Homo sapiens: one gene and its partners. The protein of the gene in region 6 purifies or fractionates together with the protein of the main gene of each other region. This does not show direct contact. Each region holds a gene or a part of one and is shown on either strand. Other genes may lie near its edges. The genes, in order: SEPTIN7, ATF1, SON, UTP14A, HNRNPUL1, SAFB and ACAT1.

Evidence for each region.
Region 1: the proteins of SAFB (region 6) and SEPTIN7 fractionate together in Homo sapiens (co-fractionation; one large-scale study listed by BioGRID). This does not show direct contact.
Region 2: the proteins of SAFB (region 6) and ATF1 purify together in Homo sapiens (co-immunoprecipitation; one large-scale study listed by IntAct). This does not show direct contact.
Region 3: the proteins of SAFB (region 6) and SON fractionate together in Homo sapiens (co-fractionation; one large-scale study listed by BioGRID). This does not show direct contact.
Region 4: the proteins of SAFB (region 6) and UTP14A fractionate together in Homo sapiens (co-fractionation; one large-scale study listed by BioGRID). This does not show direct contact.
Region 5: the proteins of SAFB (region 6) and HNRNPUL1 fractionate together in Homo sapiens (co-fractionation; one large-scale study listed by BioGRID). This does not show direct contact.
Region 7: the proteins of SAFB (region 6) and ACAT1 fractionate together in Homo sapiens (co-fractionation; one large-scale study listed by BioGRID). This does not show direct contact.

The regions. Positions count from the first base shown.
Region 1 is NC_000007.14:35,880,699-35,884,820, forward strand, and holds part of SEPTIN7 (septin-7), read left to right. Parts: intron 1-1,785; coding exon 1,786-1,878; intron 1,879-3,192; coding exon 3,193-3,289; intron 3,290-4,122.
Region 2 is NC_000012.12:50,798,334-50,802,455, forward strand, and holds part of ATF1 (cyclic AMP-dependent transcription factor ATF-1), read left to right. Parts: intron 1-4,122.
Region 3 is NC_000021.9:33,570,097-33,574,218, forward strand, and holds part of SON (protein SON), read left to right. Parts: intron 1-2,454; exon of another isoform or gene 2,455-2,534; intron 2,535-3,211; coding exon 3,212-3,359; intron 3,360-4,122. UniProt on the Homo sapiens protein: RNA-binding protein that acts as a mRNA splicing cofactor by promoting efficient splicing of transcripts that possess weak splice sites.
Region 4 is NC_000023.11:129,912,528-129,916,649, reverse strand, and holds part of UTP14A (U3 small nucleolar RNA-associated protein 14 homolog A), read right to left. Parts: intron 4,072-4,122; exon of another isoform or gene 3,959-4,071; coding exon of another isoform or gene 3,940-3,958; intron 3,341-3,939; coding exon of another isoform or gene 3,255-3,340; intron 1-3,254. UniProt on the Homo sapiens protein: May be required for ribosome biogenesis.
Region 5 is NC_000019.10:41,287,930-41,292,051, forward strand, and holds part of HNRNPUL1 (heterogeneous nuclear ribonucleoprotein U-like protein 1), read left to right. Parts: intron 1-4,122.
Region 6 is NC_000019.10:5,660,895-5,665,016, forward strand, and holds part of SAFB (scaffold attachment factor B1), read left to right. Parts: intron 1-623; coding exon 624-914; intron 915-3,127; coding exon 3,128-3,265; intron 3,266-3,502; coding exon 3,503-3,545; intron 3,546-4,122. UniProt on the Homo sapiens protein: Binds to scaffold/matrix attachment region (S/MAR) DNA and forms a molecular assembly point to allow the formation of a 'transcriptosomal' complex (consisting of SR proteins and RNA polymerase II) coupling transcription and RNA processing.
Region 7 is NC_000011.10:108,124,377-108,128,498, reverse strand, and holds part of ACAT1 (acetyl-CoA acetyltransferase, mitochondrial isoform b precursor), read right to left. Parts: intron 614-4,122; exon of another isoform or gene 520-613; intron 1-519. UniProt on the Homo sapiens protein: This is one of the enzymes that catalyzes the last step of the mitochondrial beta-oxidation pathway, an aerobic process breaking down fatty acids into acetyl-CoA.

The DNA of each region.
Region 1 (4,122 bases), on a different chromosome or scaffold from region 6:
CAGTGCACTTTACGGGATATTTATAGTTTAAGTTATTGTTCAAACCTATGACCCTAAGATTAAGAGTCTCATGCTGTATGACTGAGCTAGCTGGAAGGCCACTAAACTGTTTTTCTAGACTCACGTCTAGTTGTCTCAATAATATTGAGTTACACAGTCACACATATTTCTAATTTAATTGTGTTTGGTTCGTTATATATTACATTTTATGAAATGTAAGGTCAATTCTGGAACCTTTCTCTATTCCAGTAGTCCAAAGGCCAGTAGTATATTGTTTAAACCACAGCAGCTTTATATAATATTTAAAAGTAGATTGTAATTATCTCTATTGTCCATATAGTCCTATTGTAACAAAATACTTTGTTTTTCACCTTTTTCAATATGAATTTCAGAATACCTTGAAACCTGTTATAAAAAGCCTGTTAAAATTTGCTTTGAAGTTGTGCTAAATTCATACTAATTTTCAGAAAGTTTTAGTACATTGTTTTTACTGTATCTAGTATTTTTGTGTTTTACACTTACCCATTCCCATTTTTGTTTTGTAATGTGCTATTTCTAAGTTTCAAACACTATCATATAATACATTTCTTTTTGTTTATTATGTGTTTCGATTTGGATTTTTACTGATAAAGGTAAAAAAGATGAATATGAAGTGACCTCTTCTTTCAAATTGGTCACATCCTGGTGGTTGTACTCAGGTCATTTTAATATACAACCTCTGACTAAAACCATTGCTTTTAGAGCTAGCTACTATTACTCATTTTTCTCGTCATCATGTATTTGTCAATTCCTTGTTTATTCTTTTTTTTTTTTTAAATATAGGTACGTACCCTAATTGTAAAAGAAGTGTGGTCCTATTTTTTTTCAGTGACAATTTTACTTCTGTTTACTTCTGTCTACTATAGTAACCATGTAACACAATTTGTTCAGGGTCCTTTTATAGCTGCTGGGAACCTTTGCCAAGAAAGTTGCACCAAAATATAAGTATAGACAGGGAAGCTAGGTTTAGGTATATTAGCCATTGGTTTGTTATGGGTTCAAATAAGGATAGGTAGTTGAAAATTATTTGGATGTCTGTATTCTGTTTAGAATTGGAGTGATTTTGAACATGATAATTTAATTTGAACTAGGTCATTTCTGATGTTAATAATAAGTTGTCTTCTCTAGGTTTCTGCATTCTCCTTATTAATTCTTGAGCTTCTTAATTTCTAGGATGTGTTTTCTCCCTGTGTCCTTCCCTAATCTTACACCTGTTGCTCCTCAATTTGTGTGTATGCACATGTACATGTAAGGATTTTTCTGATGAATGTTCAGGGAGCAGTGCTGTACTTAGTTTTACCTTACTTTTGCCAGATTCTACTAAAAATTTTACGTGAGTTTAGCCCTGTTTATTCAACTAAATAAGATACTTGGGAATTTATATCTAAAGGAAGAATCTCAGTCATTGTAAATAAATGACCTAAAGTCATTATTGTGGAAATCAATCAGAGAAATCCCTTTCTGGAGTTTTACATCCTTTTTGGAACTCTTTTGGTATGACAGCTATATGACTTTAACACTTCGGAAGTAATTGGATTTGGTGTTTATATATCAACTTCATAGTTAAAAAAAAAAAAAAGACTAGCGTAGTACTTTAATTTTAGATTACAACTTTGCATCATTAAAAAACAGTAAAGGATCTGGAACCAAGGACCCATATAGGAATCGAAGAGGCATGTAATGAACATAAGACTAATATACTAATTATGTATGGTGCTCTTTTGCTGACTACTTCTTCCATTTTAGATAATGAAAGAAATCCAAGAACATAAAATTAAAATATACGAATTTCCAGAAACAGATGATGAAGAAGAAAATAAACTTGTTAAAAAGATAAAGGTAGGTTCATCCCTGTACACACGCTAAAGTAATCTGAGGCCTTAAAAACATACTACAGCGTCCACAGGAAAGATCAAAAGTATCAGTGTTTTAAGTAGTTGGCTTACAAAATACCTAGGGAGATTTAATGTTGAATTCAACTTTATAGTTAACTTTGAAGATTAGCTAGTATATATAATAAGGAATTGTATAAACTACTGAGGTGAATAACACAATTCTTATTTCAAAGTGTTTTTAATTAACTGGCTTTCATATTATGTAATTTTTTTCTCTTAAAAAACAAGTGATGAGAAAGGAGAGAATTCGTTCTGTTATGTTTTAATTGCCAGACAAAAATGTATTTATTTTGTCTCTATAAAAGCCAACCAAAATTACAGCTAGATAGGAGGAGTAAGTTCTAGCGTTCTGTAGCATTGTAGGGTGGCTGTAGTTAACAGTAATTTAGTCTATATTTTCAGATAGCTAGAAGAGGATTATGAATGTTCCCAATACAGAAAAATAAGTTTGAATTGATAAATATGCTAATTACCCTAATTCAATCATTACATATTTGTATAAAGTTATCAGAATACCATACTGTACCCCACAAATGTGTACAATTATGTTTCAATTAAAAACAATAAAAACCAACCAAAAATTCACATCAACATATTTTCTGTATTTTATCATGGTTTTCTATGTACTTTGGCCCTAAAAATGGTATACTGAATAATGGCATTATGTAGGCAAATATCTTGGAATAATGAAATTCTTATACATTGCCTGTGAAGAATTTCTGCAGTTGTAAATAGCTGCTTAGGTATTTCTGGGAGCCACAGAATTGTGAAGGGCTGAACATGGATGAACACAAATCCAGTCACCAGGATTTGAATTTCCAAAGTTAGAGCTTAACAAATATACTATTACCTGGTTTAGGTACTGTTATAGTTGGTTTGTGATCAAGTAGGCAAGCTAGTCATTAGCCCCCCGCTTTTTTTCCCCCAAATGCCAATATAGTTTTTACCTTTTATCCCCCCCCAGGTATGGGACAACTTTCTGTAGTGATTTTTAGTAAATAATTTGACCAGTATATGCTTGAATATTCTTAACATTAAAGAGAAAATTTAATTTTATTTATTGTTTACCTTGGTGGCAATACCATGTGATGGCAGTTTACTAAATATTTGTTAAATGGCCTATAAAAACTAATGCAGAAACTATCGAAAGTAAATTTTTTTTTTTTTTGGCTAACCTGTTGAGTAATGTAACTTTTTTTATTTTTGAATTTGTGAGGACTACAGAGATGTATTTGAACAAGAATACTTTGTTTTATAGGACCGTTTACCTCTTGCTGTGGTAGGTAGTAATACTATCATTGAAGTTAATGGCAAAAGGGTCAGAGGAAGGCAGTATCCTTGGGGTGTTGCTGAAGGTAAGATTTTCTTCAGTGAATGACTTTCTAAAATATCTCAAAACTGATTAAAAATTTGTATTTATAGTAAGTAGTACAGTATGCACACTGTATTGATATAGTCTAGATTTTCAAGGATAATACTGATTTCAGGTTCTTGTAGTCTCAATTTTCTCTTTAAGTACATTGGTATTTTTCAAACCTGTATCCTACCAAGTCAGGCAAGTGTGTGTTAAGTCCTAAAGTTGTAGTATAGGTTGAACATTCTTAAAGAGAAAATTCAAAATGTGAATTGCTCCAAAATAAAACGTTTTGAGCACTGACATGCTGCTCAAAGGAAGCGCTCACTGGAGCATTCTGAATTTTGGATTTTTGGATTAAGGATGCTCGACCAGTAAGTATAGCACAGATATTCCAAAATTCCAAAAAAATTCAAAACACTTCTGGTCCCAAGCATTTCAAATAAGAGATACTCAACTTGCCCCACCCTGGCTGGCATCCTGCCTCATCATTAAGTCTATTTCTGTTTTCATATTTGAAAACATAACTAAAATTGAGGGGTTCTTTACCTGGGGCCCAAAGTTTGCTCCCAGGGAATCTAATGAACCACCTGGAATCAAACATTTGGAGAGAAGGCCAGTCACTTTTATCGGAACGTCAGATGGTCATGGACCCTCAAGAATGATTGAAGAAATTTGTAAGCCCAGTTAAAACATCCACAGTCTTCTTTCCTCAGTGCAAAAGTTGCCCTTTTTGATATCTCATATTTAGAGTAAAAAAATTTCGTTAATAAGAGATCCTCTTTACTAGTTTTGTAAGGAGTTTTTTGTTTTCTTTTTTAACCTGCTATCTTA
Region 2 (4,122 bases), on a different chromosome or scaffold from region 6:
AGTCTCGCTCTGTCATCCAGGCTGGAGTGCAGTGGAGTAATCTCGGCTCACTGCAAGCTCCGCCTCCTGGGTTCATGCCATTCTCCTGCCTCAGTCTTCCGAGTAGCTGGGACTACAGGCGCCCGCCACCACACCTGGCTAATTTTTTGTATTTTTTAGTAGAGACGGGGTTTCACTGTGTTAGCCATGATGGTCTCAATCTCCTGACCTCGTGATCTGCCCACCTTGGCCTCCCAAAGTGCTGGGATTACAGGCGTGAGTCACCATGCCCAGCCTGAACCTGAGATTTCTTTATTAAGTAGGGGTCTCTCAGGAAGGCTATAACATCTGAAAAGAAACTTCTCAAAGTTAAGCTTTCTGGATTGCCACAGATTAGTATAAATCAAATACGAATTCACTCAAAAATCATCAAACGTGCAAGGACATAAACCACGTAAGTGAGAATTGGCAGAAACAATACAGTCAACTCAATAAATGCTGGGAAAAAAAGTATTTGATTAAATCCAGCACCTCATACATTTCTACCAAAAATGAATAAAAATGGGCTTCCCTAGCATATGTAGACTTTTAGAACTTAACTATGTATAGGACAGATCACCATTGCCCAAATTCTAGACTGGCCACTACCTGGTGCACATGTGTAATAGATATGAATAGCATTGCAAAGACTTTGGAAACTGAACTGACATTGGAACCACAACCCACAGAAGGCTGATCAGAACTTGTGGCCTGGACACAACCAGATTGATACCTTCTAAAACAAGAATATAGTCTAGGTCTGTGGCTCATGCCTGTAATCCCAGCACTTTGGGAGGCTGAGGTGGGAGGACTACTTGAGTCCAGGAATTTAAGACCAATCTGTGTAACATAAGGAGATCCTGTCTCTACAAAAAATACAAAAATTAGCTAGGTATGGTGGTGTGTACCTGTAGTCCCAGTTACTCAGGAGGCTGAGGGCAGAGGATCACTTGAGCCCAGGAGGTTGATGCTTCAGTGAGCCATGATTGTGCCATGCACTCCAACCTGAGTGACAGAACGAGTCCCTGTCCCAAATACACACATGCACATGCAACAAGAATATAAAACATTTTTTATTAAACAAGACCCAGAGTCTGATAGCATAATATTCAAAGAGTCCAAAATTACTTGGTATCAAAGAACAAGGAAAAATCTCAACTTGCACGGGAAAAGACTGTTGACAGAAGCCAACTCCTAGATGATACAAATGTTGGAATTATATGACAAGGACTTTAAAGAAGCTATTATTAAACTGTTCCAACAAGTAAGTGAATTTTCTTGAAATGAAAGGTATAAACTCTCGGCCAAAAATAGAGCATATAAAGAGAATAAAATAGAGATTTCAGAGCTAAGAAACACAGTAACAGAGATAAAACCTCATTGGATGGGTTCAATAGTAGAATGGAAATGAGAGAAAAAACGATCAACTTTGAAGATTATTCAATGGATATTATCCAATCTGAACATAGAAAAGAGATTGGAAAATTATCTAATTCTCAGCGACCTGTGCGACAATAATTAAAGATCTAAGATTTATGTCATTAGAGTCTCAGAAAGAGAGGAAAAAAGTATAGCGCAGAAAAAATACTTGAAAAAATAATGGCTGAAAAATTACCAAATTTGGTGAAAGACGTAAACCTACAGGTTCAAAAACCTCAGCAAACTCTAAACAGGATAAACACAAATAAATCATTGCCCAGACTTACCATAATCAAACTGCTGAAAGCTAAAGTTAAAGAAATCTTGTGAGTAGCCAGAGAATAATGGCACATTACTTACAAGAGAACATTGTGAATGACTACAGAGTGCTCATCAGAAACTATGGAGGTGAGAAGATAATGGAATAGCATTTTTAAAGTGCTAAAAGAAAAAAGAATTATCTCCTGGGTCTTGGCACCCAAAATTCTATGTCTACTGAAAACATCCTTCAGACTTGGAGGTCAAATAAATATTCTCATCAAGGGAAACTAAGGGAAATAATTGCCAGCAGACCTGCTGTAAAACAACTGCTAAGAAAATTCTTAAGACGAAAGAAAGTTAAGGAATGAAGAAACAGCAACAGAAATATCTGGGCAAATATAATGGACAGTTCCTCTCCTATTGAATTCTTTAAAATAGGGGTCCCCAAACCCCAGGCCGTGGATTGGTACCTGTCTGTGGCCTATTAGGAACCAGGCTGCACAGCAGGAGGTGAGCAGCGGGTGAGCGAGCCTTAGCACCCAAGCTCTGCCTCCTGTCAAATCAGTGGCATATTAGATTCTCATAGGAATGTGAACCGTGTTGTGACCATGCGAGGGATCTAGGTTGCATGCTCTTCATGAGAATCTAATATCTGATGATCTGAGATGGAACAGTTTCATCCTGAAACCATCCCCTGACTTCCCTATCCATGGAAAAATTGTCTTCCACGAAACTGGTCCCTGGTGCCAAAAGGGTTGGGAACTGCTGCTTTAAAATATATTTGATGGCTGGGCGCGGTGGCTCATGCCTGTAATCCCAGCACTTTGGGAGGCTGAGGCAGGTAGATCACCTGAGGTCAGGAGTTTGAGACCAGCCTGACCAACATAGCAAAACCCCGTCTCTATTACAAAGATAAAAACTTAGCTGGGCATGGTGGCAGGCGCCTGTAATCCCAGCTACTCGGGAGGCTGAGGCAGGAGAATCACTTGAACCTGGGAGGTTGCAGTGAGCCGAGATCATGCCACTGCACTCCAGCCTGGGCGACAGAGCGAGACTCTGTTTCAATCAATCCATCAATCAATTTGATGGCTGAAAACAAATTATGAAATTCTGATGGGGTTTTTAATGTGTGCAGAGGTAATATATAAGACATCTACAACATAAAGAGGGAAATATAAACAGTTCTAATATGGTGGTAAGGTTTCTACATTCCACCTGAAGTGGTAAAATAGTGATTCTATGTAGACTATAAAAAGCTAGGTATCTATATACCCCTAGAGCAACTACTAAAAAAAAACTACACAAAAAGATTTAGTCAAATATACAGTTGCTTAAAAATTAAATTTTGAAAAGTCTTCAAATAATCCAAAATAATGCAGGTGCAGGAACACAGAAGAATTTTAAAAACAGAATAAACAGAAAGCAAATAATAAAGTGGAAGATCAGCCAATACTGAAGATGGCCTACACTCACCAATTAAAAGGCAATTGTAAAACTAGACCAATATCCTTCATGAATATAGACACAAAAAATCCTCGACAACATATTAGCAAACCAAATCCAACAACATGTAAAAGGTAGTATATGCCATGACCAAACAGGATTTATCCCTGAAATGCAAAATTGGTTTAATAATTGAAAATCAATTAATGTAATACATCATATTAATAGAATCAAAACAAAAAACATATGATCATCGCAAGACACAGAAAAAGCATTTGACAAAAATCCAGTTACCATTTCATGATAAAACTGCTCAACAAATACATAGAAGGCTGCTTCCTCAACCTAATAAAAAGGGTCTACGAAAAACCCACAACTAACATCCTAATAAGAAAATAATGTGGATATCCCCTCTCACCACTTCTAAACATTGCACTCAGGGAATTAGTCAATAAATTAAATAAAAGGCATCCTGATTGGAAAGGACTAAGTAAAACACTTTGTACATGACAGTATCTTATATATACAAAATCCTAAAGAATTATTAAAATAGAACTAATCAACAAGTTCCAGCAAGGTTGTAGGATATAAGATCAATATAACAAAAATCAACTGTATTTCCATATACTAGCAATGACTAATCCAAAAATGAAACTTAAAAACAATTCTATTTACAATAACAAAGTATAAAAGGTTTAAAATTAAATTTATAAATTTAAATTATACTTAGATATGAATTTAACAAAAGAAACAGAACACATATACTGGAGGCCAGGCACAGTGGCTCATGCCTGTAATCCCAACACTTTGGGAGGCCGAGGCAGGCGATCACCTGAGGTCAGGAGTTTGAGACCTGCCCGGCCAACATGGTGAAACCCCATCTCTTCTAAAAATACAAAAATTAGCCAGGCCTGGTGGCACGCGCCTGTAGTTCCAGCTCCTCAGGATGCTGAGGCGGGATAATCGCTTGAACCTGGGAGG
Region 3 (4,122 bases), on a different chromosome or scaffold from region 6:
GTACTGGCAGCATAGCAGTGCTGAAACTGGGAGGCCGCGTGGTCTAATGGATTGGGAAGGTTTCTTTATCCTGTTGTACTCCTGACTCCTTGTGTAATCATGGGCAAGTAACTCTTTGGAATTTCAAAGTCTCTGAGGTGTCTAGTGGTAATCAGTAACGTGATGGTTACCTATAGAGAGTTGCTATGAGTGCCAGTGAATGAGCTGAATTTCTGAAAAATGAGACATTGGTTGCTTTGTGTATTTTAATCTTGTAACATTTATTTCAATTTTGATAGCTTTATCTTTGTTGATCTTACTAACAAATTAATATGAAACATCATGTATACTCATTATGCCTGCCTTTTTTTGGGAAGTAGTTGCACTGATGTGTATAGTGAGTACACAGTTAGATTCATTAAGAAATTACAATTTCTGCAGTTTGCTGAGGGTTGGTGTTAGAATAAAGGGTGAAAATGTATATAGCAAAATATTTTAAAGATTGGATTAATCTTGGACTTCTATATTATAGTTACTATGAAAGTGATTTATATAATATTTGAAAAAATGTCTTTCATCTTTGGAAGAACTATAAATGTACATCTATTTCTTTAGTTTTAATTCTTTAATACTATTTAGTCTTGAAGCTAAGTACTCAGCCAGTATTTCAGGAAGTTAGAAATAAAGCTTATGGGTGTTAAAATAGGCACATAATACAGAGTCATGTACACTGCTAGGTAGAAACTTCTGAATGTGCTTCCATTACAAAATTTTGGTCTTTATCTAATGATGTGCTGATCCATAATGTTTGTATACTTATAAATGTGTTAATAACTTAAATAACTTTTAAAAAGTGAATCTTTTACTGACTCAATTGGTTTTCCCCTAAAATAATTTCTTCTGGTATTTGCAGTCTTGTAGGCAGTTAACAGACTTTAATAACTTTAAAATGTTTAGTAGCACCTTGAAAAAAGGCTTCAACTTTATATTTTATGTAAGATATACTTTGGGAAGCAAATTATTTTGATAAATTATGAGATAAAGATATGTTCAGACCAAATTTTAAATTATAGATAAAAGTAGCACTTAAAGGAAAAGATTCATTTGTATAGAATTACTGAAGAATATTTGATGCTAGTATCAACTAAAAAAGAAACTTTTGAAAATTAAAAATGGGCCACAACATGTAGAAGTCATTAGGCAGCTGAAAATTTAGGATGTATGATCCATGTTAAATATCACAAATATTGTCTACTCATTAAATGTTTAGTTGTGTTTAGAAAACCTGTCAAACGATCATTTTGGCTCTTCTTTAGTATAGTCCAGCATCTGCCTTATGTGTTAAAAAACACATGGAATACCAACATCCTCCGTGTTCTTTTTAGTTTGTTGCAGTGTATTTTTAGATTACAAAAAAAGCAAAGTTTTATCAGTAGTCTCATTAATCAGTAAAACATTTAAAGTAGTTCGTTTAAAAGAAATTTTATTTCTAGAATGGAATGATTTGGATGTGACCTGATAAATACAGTTTGTTATTGTGGTCTCATTAAATTAATCAGCTTTTTCACACTGGGGTAAAGAAACAGATGATGATACTAGGGAATGGAAACAAAATTGGAAACCTGGGTTATTTGGGGATTTATATTGTACTCTGCACAGTTGCCCTTTTTTTTAGGCGTGTTCCCTGGAAAAGAGGGACGGATGAACCTGGAAGTAAGTAAAAGACATTCTAGGTGTGTAGCATCAAGGCAGTTAATATCCAAGCATCAGCTTTCTCTTTATACATCTACACTGCATGGCCTGCACCAAATAAGGAACTGAACCAGGGGTATGTTTTTACCTCCACAGCTGCCTCCTTCCATCAGAGCACCTTGATGAACTTAATGTCTAGTCACACGTCATTGGCATGTTTTCTCCCCAGCATTTAATTACAAAGCTGGGAAACAAAAGATGATAGATACAGTTTTACTACTGCATACAAACATTTCTTTTTTACATTCAGTATTAACTTATCAATATAGGAGATGTGCATACTATTTCCTGAGCTACTGAAGTTTTTTTACTCTCTCTGTTGATAAGTTAATGACTTTTGCTATATTATATATTTATATATATATATATATATATATTTGGTAAGAGAACATAAAAACCTAAAATTTAGTAACAAGGGGAAAATAAAGCATGATTTGGAGATATGTTTCAAATTTTTAAAAAATGACCATAAAGATCAACAGTACAACTTAATACTGTTTGCTATATGTACATGGATGCCCTTTAATAAGAGGCATTGAATATTTCTTAACCTGTAAAAATAACTGTTGACCATGCTAATGTATATATACTTGTGCATCTTAGGACATTAAGTGGTTTGCTGCTTTGATGGAAATTATGGTTCAGTGGGTTGGATACAAGAGAGATGACTGTTCACAGAATAACCTGTGAACTTTCACCCCTCTGTATGGAAACTTGTTTCAGGGCCAAATCCTTGTAGCTGTCTTCTTGCCCCGGTCAGTGCCAGCCGTACTATTCACAACACTGCTGCTACCGAGGCCTAGGTATGTAAACATTTAAGGAGTTTTTTAAAAGTCTTTTAACATCAAGCTAGGTTTTAAAAGAATTCAAATTCATTTTGGCATACTTACAGGATATTTTATGTGATTGTTTTCTATTTGTTACTGTGTAAATTTCAAGAGTTTTTTTTTTTTTTTCTGCTTTAGGGATTTTCTAAGTAAAATATTTATACTTGCTTTATAGTAGAATGGGGAAGAAAACTTTGGATGACAACAGTATGCTTCTTCAGTGTCTAAACTATTTCTAAGTGATTTCTGGGCTTTATTCATAAACTAGGTACACCTGGGACAATTAATATCATTGATTGTTTTAACATTGCCTTCTTTTTATTTTGCAAGCTAAGAAGAGATACCAGTGAACCTAAATAGTGGACGAAAACAGGAGTGTTCTAATTTTTTTTTTTTGAGGGGGGCACGAGGGCTACTGTTTCAAAACTGCCATTTACTTGTCTTATTTGACTTCCAAAATACTATTACGTTAATGTGCAAATAATCAGAACATACACACTACAGTATGTATAAAGTATAGAGGAATTTACATTTAATTGCTATAACAGATCTAGAAGTAAAGTAAGATTCCTCTTTTTAGAAAGTAAACAATGAATCTGTCACCAAGTTCTAACTGTAAAATGGGGACATTTTACCTTTCTTTCTTTGGATAGGATCAGTTCTTAAGAGCAGCCCCGGTAACTGGAGGAATGGGAGCCGTTTTGATGAGAAAAATGGGCTGGAGAGAAGGAGAAGGATTAGGAAAAAACAAAGAAGGCAATAAGGAACCCATCCTAGTTGATTTTAAGACAGACCGAAAAGGTAACAAGTTCTTTTTTGGAATGTTTATTAACGTCTCCTTTAACATTACCTTTAATATATCCTTTTGAACCCAGTGATACTGAACTGAAGGCACTTCTTGTATATATACAGGTATTTGTCAGAAAAAACATTAACCCCTTTTGGGGTTCACAGAGCAGCTTATTTTTATATAACTATGGATAGAGACACCAGTTTGAACTTTTAAAAGGCACCTTTTGTTATGCTAGTTGCTAAATATGGAAATGTGTATATATCTAATTTTATTATTACACCTCCAAATTCAACTGGATTTCATGTTTAGAAAACAGGATTTCCATTTTATTTTCTCTTGACAAGGAACCATCCTTTTTTCTAGAGTTTAGTTTATTTTTTGTTAGATATTTTAGCACATCTTCATTATTTCCTATTACAATACTGGTTTAGTCTAGATTTCATAAACCCTGTTTGCTTTTTTCTTCCAAGCTCAGTAGTTAAGTTGGGTTAGAGTATAGTAGACCAGCTGCTGACAATAATGTTACTTCTTCCTGTTGCCTTGTGTTAAGGCATCTTGGAACTGTTAGCATTGACTGTATTTTCCTTTTACCTTCAGATACCTGGGCAGGGCAGCACTGTGTCTTCTATGTAGCTTGTATGTAGTTGCTAAGTATTTAATCATTCCCACAGATGATAGCTAATTGGCGTCTTTTAAATAACTTCTTCCCTTGGAATAATGTAAGTGGAATCATGAGAGGCTTGCCAGCTCAGTATGATTTTTGTATAGCTT
Region 4 (4,122 bases), on a different chromosome or scaffold from region 6:
TATGTAAAGTTCCAAAGGAAAGGTTCAATGAGGGCCTCGATTAGGGCAGTGAAAATGAAAATGAAGAGAAAATAGGAGCATAAGGGCTATTACAGAGACAGAATTTGCAGGTCTAGCCCCCTGTATAAGCTGGCGGAGAGGGAGACAGTGAAGGGGTCAAGAAGGAATCAAATGACTGAGGTTTCCAACCTAAGTGACTGGGGTAGGGAGTTATGCTGTTAACTGAGTTGCAGAATGAAGGGGGTGGTATAGGTTTTGGAAGTCTGGGGAAAGGAAATGCGAAGCTTACTTTGGACTGGACTAAGTTTAAGGTGCATATGGGGGACCCAGGTGATCCCTGCTAGTCACATGGAATATGAGACTGGAGCTTCAAAGAAGGGGTTGAGAGTGATAGTCGAAAGTTATGAAATTTTCACTCCTGTAATCCCAGCATTCTGGGAGGCCGAGGTGGGCGGATCACGAGGTCAGGAGATCGAGACCATCCTGGCTAACACGGTGAAACCCCGTCTCTACTAAAAAATACAAAAAATTAGCTGGGCGTGGTGGCGGGCACCTGTAGTCCCAGCTACTTGGGAGGCTGAGGCAGGAGAATGGCGTGAACCCGGGAGGTGGAGCTTGCAGTGAGCCGAGATTGCACCACTGCACTCCAGCCTGGGCGACAGAGCAAGACTCCGTCTCAAAAAAAAAAAAAAAAAAAAGTCATGGAATTTACAGAGCAAGAATAAAAAGGACTAAGGAAAGCCAGAGAGAGAAAATACCCAGAGTATATCACAGAAGCTAGAGGGGAGAGATTTTTAGAATGAAATGTGCCAATGGTGTCAAATATGCTAAAGACTAAGAGGGCTTGGGATTTGGCAATTCGGAGGCCCCTCACTAATGCCTTTTGAGAGAAGTTTCAGTAGGGCAGTAGGGGAAGAAGGTGAGAGAGAGGAGGCAGCAGTGGAGACAGACCAGCTCTTCCCCAAACACATTTCTCATCAGATAACAAGATTTGCCTCCCCTGTTAAAAGCTTAAAATTCAATTTTTTTGAAATTTTAATAAAATCAGTTTGTACACCCTAAGTTAAATTAGATCCAACAGGTGTCTTCACCATTGTTTCATAGCCTTTTTTTTTTTTTTTTTTTGAGACAGAGTCTCGCTCTGTCGCCCAGGCTGGAGTGCAGTGGCACGATCTTGGTTCACTGCAAGCTCCGCCTCCCAGGTTCATGCCATTCTCCTGCCTCAGCCTCCCAAGTAGCTGGGACTATAGGCGCCCGCCACCGTGCCCAGCTAATTTTTTATATTTTTAGTAGAGACGGGGTTTCACCGTGTTAGCCAGGATGGTCTCGATCTCCTGACCTTGTGATCCACCCACCTCAGCCTCCCAAAGTGCTGGGATTACAGGCGTGAGCCACCACGCCCGGCCCATAGCCTTTATTTTTATTTTTTATTTTTGAGACAGAGTCTCACTCTGTTGCCCAGGTTGGAGTACAGTGGCCCAACCTTGGCTTACTGCAACCTCCGCCTCCTGGGTTCAAGCGATTCTGGTGCCTCAGCCTCTTGAGTAGCTGGGATTACAGGCATAAGCCACCACGTCCAGCTAATTTTTTAATATTTTTTAGTAGAGACGATGTTTTGCCACGTTGGTCAGGCTGGTCTCAAACTCCTAACCTCAGGTGATCCACCCGCCTTAGCCTTCCAAAGTGCTGGGATTACAGGCGTGAGCCACCACATCCGTCTGGCCTGTTTCATAGACTTTAAAATGCTAAAGCATGTTGTGACTCTCCGATCTCCAGTAGGGGCATGCAGCATTTTCTAGCAATGCCTCCTCTCCTCCTCTTGTGAAGGCATAATGAGAGACTAAGGTTTCAAGGAGAATGCCTTGGGAAATACCACTGTAGACAGAGAATAGTGAGGAGAGGGGTGAAAGAAGTTACCTCACAGCATTTCTAGCACTTTGCAGTTTACAAATGCCTTCTCATGCATTATCCCACTTAATTATTTGCAGCTAAACAAAATTTTAGGGAGCTGGACCAAAACTATAGTACAGACTTTCGATTTTCTTTTCTTTTTTTTGGGGGAGGGCGGGGAAAGAGTAGAGGGTTTTTTTTTTTCCTCAGGCTGGAGTGCAGTGGCGTGATCTCGGCTCACTGTACCTTCTGCCTCCTGGATTCAAGAAATTCCCCTGCCTCAGCCTCCTCAGCAGCTGAGACTACAGGCATGTGCTACCATGCCCGGCTAATTTACATATTTTTAGTAAAGACGAGGTTTCACCATGTTGGCCAGGCTGGTCTTGAACTCCTGACCTCAGGTGATCCACCTGCCTCAGCCTCCCAAAGTGCTTGGATTATAGGCGTGAGCCACCGTGCCTGGTCTGAGACTTGATATTCAGTTTCTAGAAATCCTAATACAGCATATACTAGTTGTTGGTACTTTGCAATCTAAGTTGTAAGGAGAGACCTAGGAGTTGCTAGCCACAAAGCACCCTCTGAACTAAGCACTTCCTTATTTCTCTGTGCCCTACTAGCATAATTTCTCAAAAGTCAGTCTTAGAATGAATGAACGGCATGGTATATTCAATGTATGACATCTGAGCCTCACTCTATCTTGAAGAGGTTGTTCTATTCTTAGTGTAACCTCCTCCACTACCATCTAGTTTTTATTTTTTATTTATTTATATATATATTTTGAGACAGAGTCTCATTCTATTGCACAGGCTGGAGTGCAGTGGCACAATCTCGGCTCACTGCAACCTCCGCCTCCCAGGTTCAAGTGATCCTCCTGCCTCAGCCCCCCTAGTAGCTGGGATTACAGGCACACACCACCATGCCCCGCTAATTTTTGTATTTTTAGTAGAGATGGGGTTTCGCCATGTTGGCCAGGATGGTCTCAAACTCCTGACCTCAGGTGATCCACCTGCCTCGGCCTCCCAAAGTGCTGGGATTACAGGCGTGAGCCACCACACCCGGCCCCATCTCGTTTTTAATAACAAACTTGGCATTTTCCTGCTATCTCCAAGATTACACTGTCATTTGGAAAAAGCAAGGTGGAGGACAGTGTGTAGTAGCATGCTACCCTTCTTTTTATTTAAAAAGGAGGTAAACATGAATATAGAAATAAAACTCTAAGACAACAACAACAGCAAACTTATGCAAGTGGTTACTTCTGGGTGAGTATGGGGGTAAAAATGATCAGATGGGGCACGGGTGGAATCAAACTTTTCACTACATATCTTCTATGCTTTTTTATTTTTGAATCCTACAAATTGTATTACCTCTGATTTTTTTTTTCTAAAGTCTCCCTTCATCCTGCAGCCACACTTTAAACCTGATCTCTTTTTCATGTAGAAAAGGAAGCCTCCTAGAAAGAGAATGGTAGTGACTTCAGCAAAAACATCAGAAACAGCTTATCCCCATAATAAGCAACTACTCGCTCAATTTCTAGCTATTGTGGCAAGCAATGTTTACTTTGATTAGCTTTAATTAGCTCAACTTCCCAACGCCTAAGAAACTACCATTCTTGGGTTTTTGGAAAGTAAAGAGGAGAAGCACAAAGAGGGCATCTATTTAAGACTAATCAGCCCATTATAGACTCCATACCAATGGTGTATTGGAAAAGTAGGCTAGCTGTTCTAAAGCAGTTATTCGGACTAAAAACCGGACTTCAGGGACCAACATAGGATTTCCAACTTCTAATTTTGCCAAGAGCATAACTACCATTTCACCCCCAATCCCATCATTTACTACCACCATCATTTCATAGAAGAAAAGATATTTCAACACCATTAAAATAGAATAACCTCATAATAAAAAAGAACTGGCAACATTACACCCACCAAACAAACATACTTAGAATTATCCTTTTGCTTCAGACACAAACTTTGTTAGGGGTCAGTGTTTGGGAAACCCAGCTCTAAAACATCAACCCCTGCCCTGCAGCTCAGAGTCATAGTAAGTTACCTGCTGAAGTTCTAGTCATTGCCAGCAACACATTATATTTTAATGCGGTATTCCTGTACAAGCAAAGTTTGGCTTCTGTTGTTCACATATCCTCACTAAGGCATCATTAATGTTATCGAGTTCCTGATTTCCCTAGGATCAGAATGTGGCTTTAAATGCTTTTTAAAAACTGGGGTAAAAGAA
Region 5 (4,122 bases), about 36 Mb from region 6:
AAACCTTGCATTTTTTTCCCATTGAAGAGTAAATCTTGGCCATCTTTCCCTGTCCACACAGACAATATATAGATCTAGCTCAGTTAAAGTTGTTTCTTAATAGTTAATCATTGTGAATTGATTTTTTCAAGAATAGGGTTTCCAAAAAAAAATCGAGGAATGTAAAAGGGGATACAGTGTAAAGTCTTCTTTAGACACCCCCCCTCCCGCCCCACCCATTTTTCACATATACCCTCCCCAGCATGTGAACCCACTGGTACTCGGGGTTTCATCTTTTTTTTTTTTTTTTTAACTTGTATGTCTTGGGGGTCTTTTTATTTATTTAATTTTTTTGAGACAGAGTTTTGCTCTTGTTGCCCAGGCTGGAGTGCAATGGCATGATCTTGGCTCACCACAACCTCCGCCTCCCAGATTCAAGTGATTCTTCTGCCTCAGCCTCCCAAGTGCTGGGATTACAGGCATGCGCCAGCATGCCCGGCTAATTTTGTAGTTTTAGTAGAGACAGGGTTTCACCATGTTGGTCAGGCTGGTCTCGAACTCCCGACCTCAGGTGATCTGCCCTCCTTGGCCTCCCAAAGTGCTGAGATTACAAGCGTGAGCCACCATGCCCGGCCTTGGTGGGGATCTTTTTATGGTACTACCAAGAGAGCTTCTTTGTACTTTTATATTGTCTGTAGTCATTGTATGACTGTACCATAATTGATTTAACCTAGCGCCTCCCTTTGGTGGACATGTCGTTACTTTTGCAGCTTTGTATTTAGTGACTGTAATGGCTGTCTAGTATTCTGATGCAGGGGTTTGGGTACCCTGCTTTAATTTAGCCCGTCTTCCTGTTAGTGGCTGTGAAAGTTGTTTCCTGGAACAGATAAATGCGGCTTGTCTTTTTTCCATTTACTGGAGTAACTTGGAGATCTTTTTGTAGCCCCACATATGGATCTCCTGTGCAATTTAGCCACTCCTACTTCCCCATTGGAGCACATTTTCCGTGCTGGCATGAGCATTTTGCACATAGAATTTTGCATTCTTGTGGGAATGTAGTTGTATTCCTTCTTGAAAGTTAGATTCTAAGTCAAAGGTATATTTTTAAATTTTCATAGCTACCACCAAGACTACACTCCAAACAGGTTGCAGTAATTTAACTTGTCACTGTGTGACAGTGTTTGCCAAAGTCTGTTCTTTCAGAGTATGAGGTTCTTTTGGTATGTGGCAGTATGGAACTCTAGGCCTTGACTCTTGCTTCAACCAGAACATCTCTGCATCCAGTCTTAAGATTCCTTATATAGTTTTCTTTGTTCAGAAGATACCACAACTTTAAAAAGGCTCAGGGTGAGGAGTTGGTGGGGGTGTAAAAATCATTGGTCTCCTGGAACAAGAGGGGAGGACATTGGTGTCAAATATCAAGTCCTCAATTTGCAAAACAAAAAGGTAAAACAGCCTTCCAAGTGGAGAACAGAATAACCCATTTCAGCAAACCATAAAGAGTATGATACTTAGAGCCTAGGGACAACAGAAAGAGGTGTGAGACACCAGGCTATAAAAATGGCAGGCTCTGAATTATGCCAGGCTTCAGGAGTTTGGGTCTTTAGGCCTGGGACTGACACAGGAGTGTTTCAGCAGGAACAACAACACAACTCCACTTGCCTTTTGGACAGATGGCTCTGTTGGTGGTAGATGGGTTGGTTGAGGGCGCCGGTTTCTGTGCATTATGGGAAGTTCCTATAGTGAAGCTGGTGGCCATAAGGAAGGCTAACTAACACCAACAGTCATACCTGCTCTCCATGGTCTTTTTTTTTTTTTTTTTTTTGAGAAGGAGTCTTGCTGTTGCCCGGCTGGAGTGCTGTGACATGATCTCGGCTCACTGCAACCTCCAACTCCCTAGTTCAAGTGATTCTCCTGCCTCAGCCTCCTGAGTAGCTGGGATTACAGGCACTCGCCACCATGACCAGCTAATTTTTGTATGTTTAGTAGAGACGGAGTTTCACCATGTTGGCCAAGATGGTCTTGATCTCTTGACCTCATGATCTGCCCACCTCGGCCTCCCAAAATGCTGGGATTACAGGCGTGAACCACCACATCCAGCCGCTCTCCATGGTCTTGACGTGGGTGCATGCTTAGAGATGAACAGGCATGAGGGCCTCTGACACAGAGCTGTGCCCTGTGAGCACTGAGGAGGTTAATGAGGAAGCTCCTCAAGGGAGGGTGCTTCTGTCGCTTCTTGAAGGGCAATTCCCAAGGTGGTCACCTGAATAGAGAAAGAAATTATACTTTCATATCAGAAAGCGAACCGTGTATTTTGCTTCAGTCTGCTATCTAATCTCAAGTTTTGAGCCTTTTCTTCTCTGAGATGGGCATTTAGAAAAATATTTAACAAACGTTTTAAAAATATAAATTTTAAAAAGGCAAAAAAACACTAAGAAAAAAAAGAGCCTCTCGTATCCTGCAGCCAAAGCAATGTTTCCAAAACACAGTTTTGAGCAGGCTGCTCCTCTATTCAAAATAAGTCAGACACTCTGCTCTGCCACCAGCATCAAGTTCAAATTCCTGCGGTAAATTAGAGTCCCTCACATGCCGAGGTAGGCCGTGTCCCCTCCCACCACTTCAGTCCCAGCCCCTTATTTCTAGCACAGTGCCTGACATTTTGCAGTGATAGCTCACATTCCTTGTGTGCTCACTGTGTATTAAATGTACTAGCCCATTTAACAGTTAGAATAAACATAGGCTGTATAAAATATTATTACCCCGCCCCCCTTTTTTTGATAAAGAAACAAGATGAAATAACTTAACCAAGGCCACAAGTTAGTAAATGGTAGAACTGAAGCCATCCACCTTCTAAAATGGGATCATAGGCTAGGCGTAGTGGCTCACACCTGTAATCCCAGCACTTTGGGAGGCTGAGGCGGGTGGATCACCTGAGGTCAGGAGTTCGAGACCAGCCTGACCAACATGGAGAAACCCCGTCTACTAAAAATACAAAATTAGCCGGGCGTGGTGGCACATGCCTGTAATCCCAGCTAATTGAGGCAGGAGAATCGCTTGAACCCAGGAGGCGGAGGTTGTGGTGGGCCGAGATTGCGCCATTGCACTCCAGCCTGGGCAACAAGAGTGAAATTCCGTCTCAACAAAAAGAGGGGGGATCTTAATTACTAACTTTAGCAATTCAATAAGTAGTTGTTACAGAATAAATGAATGTGGTCCCTGCATGGCTCTTCAGCTGTTCCTGAATTACTTCCCCCTCATCTTTTATGCCTCAGCCAATCTGACCTTGTGTTCTGTCACTGCTAGGCTTATATACAAGCAACTGAGAAACCTCAGAAACTTGCTTCTAGGTAGGTCATCTTACTGAATTATGATAGAGTGTCCTTGTCTCATTCCCCACTGGTCGCTAAGCTCTGTCGGTCCCAGATTATGCAGACATGTGTATCAGAAAGAGTACGAACTCAGGGAACATGTTGAACAAGCTGAACTCAGTTCGAAAAGGCCCTGCGGTGGCTTTCCTTCATCTGTTATATTCATAGACTGCCCTTTCTGGGTTTCTTTTGTTTGTTTTTGTAGAGATGGGGTCTCTTTCTGTTACCCAGGCTGTACTTGAACTCCTGGCCTCAAGCATCCTCCTGCCTTGGCTGCTCAAAGTGATGGGATTATAGGCGTGAGCCACTGCACCTGTCTCCTCATCAGTTTTCAGGACAGGACTGGACCACCTTTTCCTTCGTCTTCATCTCAGTCTAGGCACAAGACTCAAATACTTGGAGCTTCTTAAAATTACCTGCTTTAGGACAGGTGCAGTGGCTCAAGCCTATAATTCCAACAGTTTGGCAGGCCAAGGTGGGAAGATCACTTGAGTCCAGGATTTCAAGACCAGCCTGGGCAACATAACAAGACCCTGTCTCTACAAAAAAATTTAAAAATTAGCCAGGTGTGGAACATGCCTGTAGTCCCAGCTACTCAGGAGGCTGAGGTGGGAGGATTGCTTGAACCTGGAAGTTTGAGGTTGCGGTGAGCCCTAGCTGTGCCACTGCACTCAGCCTGGGGGACAGGGTGAGACCCTGTCTCAAAAAAAAAAAAAACAAAAAAAAAAAACTCTTGCTTACTTGCTTCATATCCACCAACTTTGGGGTCTTAGGC
Region 6 (4,122 bases):
TTCCAATTCACACTCACTCGCTATGAAGCATATACTCTGTGGCTTTTTTTTTTTTTTTTTTTTTTTTTTCTGTTGCCGGGCTGGAGTGCAGTGGCTCACTGCAACCTCTGCCTCACGGGCTCCAGTGATTTTCCTGCCTCAGCCTCCGGAGTAGCTGGGACTACAGGTGCGTGCGTGCCACCATGCCCAGCTAATTTTTGTATTTTTAGTAGAGACAAGAGTTTCACCATGTTGGCCAGGCTGGTCTCGATCTCTTGACCTCATGATCCACCCACCTCAGCCTCCCAAAGTGCTGGCATTACAGATGTGAGCCACCGCGCCCGGCCTGTTGCTTATTTTTGACTGGCTGTTTCCTGAAATCACTTGTCAAGCTCCAGGAAATGTTGGAGAAAGGAGGCCCAGTTCTGATCACACACACACAGCCTGGGCCTCACTCCTGAGATCTTCCTGGGCTGCTCCTGTGGGCCCGAGAAGCCTTCTTCCCGCTGGAGTGTACGGTTCTGCAGACCACGTAGTGGACGCACAGCCCTGGAGTCTGTGCGACCCAGCGTCTTACTTAAAGTCAGCCCTGGGACCTGGCTGGGGGTGTCTAGGTCCCCTTCTGCAGCTCTACTGTTGTGCAGCAGGGTGCGTGAACGCAGTGAACGCGAACAACGCATGCAGGCGCAGTGGGAGCGCGAGGAGCGTGAGCGGCTGGAGATTGCCCGAGAGAGGCTGGCCTTCCAGCGCCAGCGGCTGGAGCGGGAGCGCATGGAGCGGGAACGGCTGGAGCGCGAACGCATGCACGTGGAGCACGAGCGCAGGCGCGAGCAGGAGCGCATCCACCGTGAGCGCGAGGAGCTGAGGCGCCAGCAGGAACTGCGCTATGAGCAGGAGCGGCGGCCCGCGGTGCGGCGGCCCTACGACCTGGACCGGTAAGCAGATCCATGCTGCCCTTAGCACGTGGCGTTCAGAATCGTGTTAGGGACCTCACAGTCCAGTTAGCTTGAGATTTTTTTTTTTTTTTTTGAGACGGAGTCTTGCTTTGTCGCGGAGGCTGGAGTGCAGTGACCCGATCTTGGCTCACTGCAAGCTCTGCCTCCCGGGTTCACACCATTCTCCTGCCTCAGCCTCCCGAGTAGCTGGGACTACAGGCGTTTGCCACCTCTCCCGGCTAATTTTTTTGTATTTTCAGTAGAGACGGGGTTTCACTGTGTTAGCCAGGATGGTCTCTATCTCCTGACCTCGTGATCCACCTGCCTCGGCCTCCCAAAATGCTGGGATTACAGCTGTGAGCCACCGCGACCGGCCAGCTTGAGATCTTTCATTCAAAGGAAGCATAGGCCGGGTGCGCTAGTTCACGCCTGTAATCCTAACATTTTGGGAGGCCAGGGTGGGCGGATTGCCTTAGCTCAGGAGTTGAAGACCAGCCTGGCCAACATGGCAGAACCCCGTCTCTACTAAAATACAAAAAATTGGTCGTGGTGACAGGCGCCTGTAATCCCAGCTACTGGGGAGGTTGAGGCAGGAAAATCGCGTGTACCCAGGAGGCAGAGGTTGCAGTGAGCCAAGATCGTGCCACTGCACTCCAGCCTGGGCAATAGAGTGAGACTCGGTCTCAAAAAAAAAAAATTAGAGACAGGAGGCTGGATAAAGTAGTGCTGGTTAACTAACCAGGTTCAAGGGTGGCACAGACCTCCTGAGGAGGGAAGCTCAGGCACGTAGAGAGCGCCACACGTGCCCTACTGCACCTCCTTTAAGGCCCTTTCCTTTTTTTTTTTTTTTGAGATAGAGTCTCGCTCTGTTGCCCAGGCTGGAGTGCAATGGCGCGATCGCTGCTCACTGCAACCTCCACCTCCTGGGTTCAAGCGATTCTCCTGCCTCAGCCTCCCTAGTATTCGAGATTACAGGCACCCACCACCACACCCGGCTAATTTTTGTTTTTTTTAGTAGAGATGGGGTTTTGCCATGTTGGTCAGGCTGATCTCAAACTCCTGACCTCAGGTGATCCACCCACCTCAGACTCCCAAAGTGCTGGGATTACAGGCGTAAGCCACCACCCCCGGCCTTGTCCTGGCTTTTTAAATCCATTGTAATTTGTTTTTGCTTATTCTAGAAATAAAGAATTAAAAAAAAATTTTTTTTTGAGACGGAGTTTTGCTTTCGTTGCCCAGGCTGGAGTGCAATGGCGTGATCTCAGCTCACTGCAGCTTCCGCCTCCTGGGTTCAAGCAATTCTCCTGCTTCACTCTCCCAAGTAGCTAGGATTATAGGCATGTGCTACCACACCCGGCTAATTTTTTGCATTTTTAGTAGATACCGGGTTTCACCATGTTGGCCAGGCTGTCAAACTCCTGACCTCAGGTGATCCACCCACCTTGGCCTCCCAAAGTGCTGGGATTACAGGCATGAGCCACTACGCCCGGCAGTAAGATTAATTTTAATTTCTCAAACATACTGAAGAGGAGGTATGAACACAAAATGCTGAGCATGGCTGCTGTGAGGAGTCAGGTGTGTAATTCCAGCAGTGATTGTGTCAGGCTTTACACGTGCACTGCAACCTGGCAAAAATTGCTGTTTGTTGTTTCTTTCTATTGCATGGGTTGAAGAGGAGCCCAGGTCATATATACAATGCAACTTCTATAAAGGGCCTTGTAAACTGTTCTAGGATCTATTATGCTTTGGTACGAAATCCTTCTGATGACAGTTCATTATGGTCATCTGTGTATTGCAGCAGTACATGGCCAGGGCTGCTGGCAGGGCAGGAGGTCAGCTTTGGGGCGAGAGAGATGGCAGGTGCACTTGACAGAGCCCCTCGGGGTGGAGGCTCACGTGGTCTTCCTGAGCGGAGGTGGCTGTGTAGGGCTCCAGAAGCCATCTGCAGGCAGCCCATAGGACTGACTGCTTAACTAATGGCTCCCTCTTTGGAAAACCGAGGCCGCTTTTCATCAGGGGAGGTGGGTGCATGGGACAAAACAAAACAACTGTGCAGTCACTGGGGTCAAATCAGACCTTGCCTCCTATAGGAGAGAACACTCTTGGTGAAAGTCATCCTGGTTCTGTGAAGTGCTAGGGGCCAGCTCCCACAAAGGTGATAGATACATTTGGGGTGGGGGATCCCTCTATCTCTGTCTCATGTCCCCTCACAGGCGAGATGATGCCTATTGGCCGGAAGCCAAGCGGGCCGCCCTGGATGAGCGCTACCATTCTGACTTTAACCGCCAGGACCGCTTCCACGACTTTGACCACAGGGACCGCGGCCGCTACCCCGACCACTCGGTGGACAGGTCAGTTGGGCCCCTGCTGGGCGTGCGGGTTTTCTTTTTCCTGGCTCATTCTGACTGAGAACAAGGACTCCTGGGCTCTCTGAACCCACTCCGTTCATCAGATGTATGCTGAGTCAGACCCGCAGGTCTCCTGCCTTCAGTTAGGGAAATTATGCTTTTCATTGGGGGCCTGATGGTCCTCTCTTTGTGAACAAGCCTCTTCTTCCCCTTACGGTTTGATTTAAATTGCCTTTTCAGGAGAGAAGGTTCAAGGTCAATGATGGGAGAACGAGAAGGACAGGTAAGTCTGAAGCTACAGTGGTAGCCACAGAATTTCCCATAGAATGGGTTCTTTTCCCTTCAGCGTGCCTTCTTCCTGCCCTTTCTTTGAGCAAGAGGCAAAATGAGGAAAGAGAAAAGTAAAGCACTAGAAAAGTCTAGGTTTGTGGAATGGAAATTTGGGATTATTTGGGGTTAGTCTTGGCTGTCAGTCCAAACAGTTACTCTGAAGCTGTTTTTAGCCTTGACCCTGGGGTTCTGTGTGCCACACTCACCACACATGTGCAACAGTGCCAGGGAACCTTGGGATGTGACCTGGCTCTGCTGGGAAGTGTCTAGTGAGCCGCACAGCTGACTCAGACAGGTGCATCTGGGGAGGCTGTGGTTGCTGTGTCTGTCCTCGAGTGCCTGCCCTCTTTTGAAAGTAAGGACATCCTTCATCACCCCAGGGCCCAGCTTAGCCTTGGAAAACAACTAGATCTGTGGTCTGTGCTCATTCTCTTCGGGGGCTAGCACATTAGAACAATAAGCTCCATTTTCTCCTTCCATCTTACATTGAGACTGAGACTTCCCAGGAGAGCCTTGGACCTCTAGTGGCT
Region 7 (4,122 bases), on a different chromosome or scaffold from region 6:
CTGCCTCAGCCTCCCGAGTACCTGGGACTACAGGCATGCGCCACCACGCCCGGCTAATTTTTGTATTTTTAGTAGAGACAGGGTTTCACCACGTTGGCCAGGCTGATTTTGAACTCCTGACCTCAGGTGATCCGCCTGCCTCGGCCTCCCAAAGTGCTGGGATTACAGGCATGAGCCACTGCACATGGCCTCACCTTACTTTAGTTCTCTTTGGCAAGAAAGGTTCTCCAGGTTACCTACAGTGTCTATTTGCTTGTCCTCACCTCCTCTTTACAGTTCAACCCACTCAGATCAGGATTTTATTTCTGCCAGTTTACCACTGTTGGTTCTGAGCAACATCAGCAATGTCTGTGTAGCAAAATCCAACTCGCTATAATTGTCTCACTTAACCTTTTAACACATCAGCAAGACTGGGCTCACCTTTCTTTGAGAAATATGCTGAGCAGTTAAGAGCCTGGGCTTACCAGCTCAGTATTCTTTGTTTGTTTGTTTTGTAGAGACAGAGTCTCACTATCTTACCAAGCTGGTCTCAAACTCCTGGGCTCAAGCGATCCTCCTGCGTTGGCCTTCCAAAGTGCTGGGATTACAGGCGTGAGCCACTGTGCCCTGCAAGCTGAGTATTTTTGAGCAAGTTACTTAGACACACTTACCTTGGTTTTCTTAAATACCCTCCACAGGCTGTTATGAGAATAAAATGAGGTAATATGTATAATCCACTGCAGAAACCCTTCCTTGTCTTGGCTTCCATTACAAACGTGGACTCCTTCCTACCTCATTAGTCATATTTACCTCAGTCTCCTTTACTATCTCATCTTCCCCTTCCAACCTCCAAGTGCTGAATGTCCCAGGGCTTTGTTCCAGGCCTCTTTTAATTTAACTTCACTATATCCTTAGTTATATCCAGTCCCATGGCTTTAAAAAGCATTTATGAGGCCGGGCACAGTGGCTCACGCCTGTAATCCCAGCACTTTGGGAGGCCAAGGCAGGCAGATCACGAGGTCGGGAGATAGAGACCATCCTGGCTAACACGGTGAAACCCCATATCTACTAAAAATACAAAAACAAAATTAGCCAGGCGTGGTGGCGGGCACCTGTAGCCCTAGCTATTTGGGAGGCTGAGGTGGGAGAATGGTGTGAACCCGGGAAGTGGAGCTTGCAGTAAGCCAAGATCACGCCACTGCACTCCAGCCTGGGTGACAGAGTGAGACTCTGTCTCAAAAAAAAAAAAAAAAGGCTTCTATGTGCTGATGATTTTCCAAATTTCTATCTCCAACCCTGACCTTTCAACTGACCACCAGACTCACACCCAAGCGCCAACCTGACAGCTGCAGGTGAATGTCCAAATCATAGCTCTCAATTTCCAACCCTAGAAAACCTGTTTGTGGCCAGGTGCAGTGGCTCACCCCTGTAATCCCAGCAGTTTGGGAGGCCGAGGGGGGCGGATCACGAGGTCAGGAGTTCCAGACCAGCCTGGCCAACATGCTGAAACCCCGTCTCTACCAAAAATACAAAAAAATAAAAATAAAATAAAATAAAAAAATAACAGGGCATGGTGGCACGCGCCTGTAATCCCAGCTACTCCAGAGGCTAAGGCAAGAGAACTGCTTAAACCCGGGAGGTGGAGGTTGCAGTGAGCTGAGATTGCGCCATTGCACTCCAGCCTGGGTGACAGAGAAGACTCCATCTCAAAAAAAAAAAAAAAAAAAAGAAAACCTGTTTGTTGCCGGTATTCTCAGGTGCTCAAGCCAAAATCATCCTTCATCCTTCCCTTTATTGCAATCCCTAAAATCCAGATACTGTGAACAGCGTCCAAAACATAACTAAATTCGTCCACTCTGCCTCATGTCTACTGCTGCCACCTAGTCCAAGCCACCATCTCTTGTTCCTATTAATGGCCTTCTACCTAGTTCCCTGCCTCCCCTGACACCTCTCTACAGTCCCTCCAGCTTTGAAAAATGTAAATCAGATCATATCACTCTACTGCTTAAAATAATTTAACAGCTTTTCATTGCTCTTGGAATTATATACAAATTCTTTACCTCATCCTCCAAGAACCTGCATGATCTGGCTCTAGGTTTTCTCTCCAAATTTACATCACTCTTGCTCTGTGCCAGCCACTGGCATCTCTTTGTTCTAAACCCTATCCCGATACCTCAAGGTCTCTGCAGTGTGCCTCTGCCAGTAATAGTCTCCTCAGGCCGGGCCTAGTGGCTCATGCCTATAATCCCAGCCCTTTGGGAGGCCGAGGCAGGTGGATCACTTGAGATTAGAAGTTTGAGACCAGCCTGGCCAACATGGTGAAACCCCGTGTCTACTAAAAATACAAAAATTAGCCAGGTGTGGGGGTGGGCACCTGTAGTCCCAGCTACTTGGGAGGTTGAGGTGGGAGAATCGCTTGAATCCAGGAGGCAGAAGTTTCAGTGAGCCGAGATCGCGCCGCTGCCCTCTAGCCTGTGCAACAGAGTGTGATCCTGTCTCCAAAAAAATCAAAAACAAAACAAAACAAAAAGTCTTCCCAGCTCTCCATGGCTGGCTCATTTTTATTCTTCATGTCTTTTCTTTTTTTTTTTTTTTAGACGGAGTCTCACTTTGTCACCCAGACTGGAGTGCAGTGGCGCGATCTCGGCTCACTGCAAGCTCCGCCTCCCAGGTTCACGCCATTCTCCTGCCTCAGCCTTCCAGGTAGCTGGGACTACAAGCGCCCGCCACCACGCCTGGCTAATTTTCTGCATTTTTATAGAGACAGGGTTTCACCTTGTTAGCCAGGATAGTCTCGATCTCCTGACCTGGTGATCTGCCCGCCTCAGCCTCCCAAAGTGCTGGGATTACAGGCGTGAGCCACCACACCCAGCCTATTCTTCATGTCTTTTCTAATGACACATTCCCAGAGTGGTCCACCCTAACTACTCTATTTAAAGTTACCCTCTACTTTTTCCTCTCTTTTATATGAATATCTTTATTTCCTTCAAAGCACCTCTTACACTGTAAGTATGTGGTTCACATCTTTGTTTTATTATCCACCCCTCCAACATAATACAGGCTTCCTGATGGCGGGATGGTGTCTCTTGCTCACTGTTACATCCCTATGACTTAGCACAGTGCCTAGCGCTCCTTCAATATCAGAAACGAATGACAAAATTATAGTATGGTCAGGACACTGAACCATATAGTGTATAATAATACATGCTGAATGAACACAACCCATTAAGTTTTATCTACATAACACAATTATCTTTCAGGGAGGGCTCAGCCATGCCAGGCAGAGGTCAGCACTCCTATCTCAGCTTCCACAACGCCCGTGCACATTCTAATTGTTCCAGAATATATAATTTTGTAACCCTCAGGTGGCTTTTCTCCTCACTAGACTGTGAATTCCAAGAAGAGACTGATTTTATTTATTTTCTATCCCAGTGATGGCAGCAGACACAAAACAAATATTTGAAGACAGTCTGAAAGTTACCAATAACTCAGAGAAACAAAATTTCAGCTACAGTAAATGTTATGAAACCAGCAAAATTGATCATGAACTAGAGAGTAACTGACGGCCTACTTTACATGGGAGAGTCAAAAAAGGCCTTCTAGCAATGTTAATGGAGCTGAGAAATGAATGTTAAAGAGTCATCCTTGGAAAGATCCAGGAAAAGAACATTTGAGGCATCAGGAACACGTAGGACTAAGGCCACGAATTCGGAACAAAATTGGCACACATACTAAGTATAGAAAGAAGGGTCCTGTGGCAAAAGCAGAGTGAGCACGGCAGCAGCTGAGGCCACAGAACTAAGTAGGGCCCAGCAGATCATAAGGGTCTAGATTCTGGCCTATGGGCAATGACAAGCCACTGAAAGCTTTTATGTTATAAAAAGACCACTCTGGCTGCGGGGGAACTGAGTGTACTAGGGTAAGATTAGAAAAAGGGAAGGGGGCCAGGTGTGGTGGCTCACACCTGTAATCACTTTAGGAGGCTGTGGTGGGCAGATCATCAGAGGTGGATCACCTGGTGAGCTGGTCAGGAGTTCGAGCCCATCCTGACCAACATGGTGAAAGCCCGTCCCTACTAAAAATACAAAAAGTAGCGGGTGTGGTGGCACATGCCTGTAATCCCAGCTACTCAGGAGGCTGAGG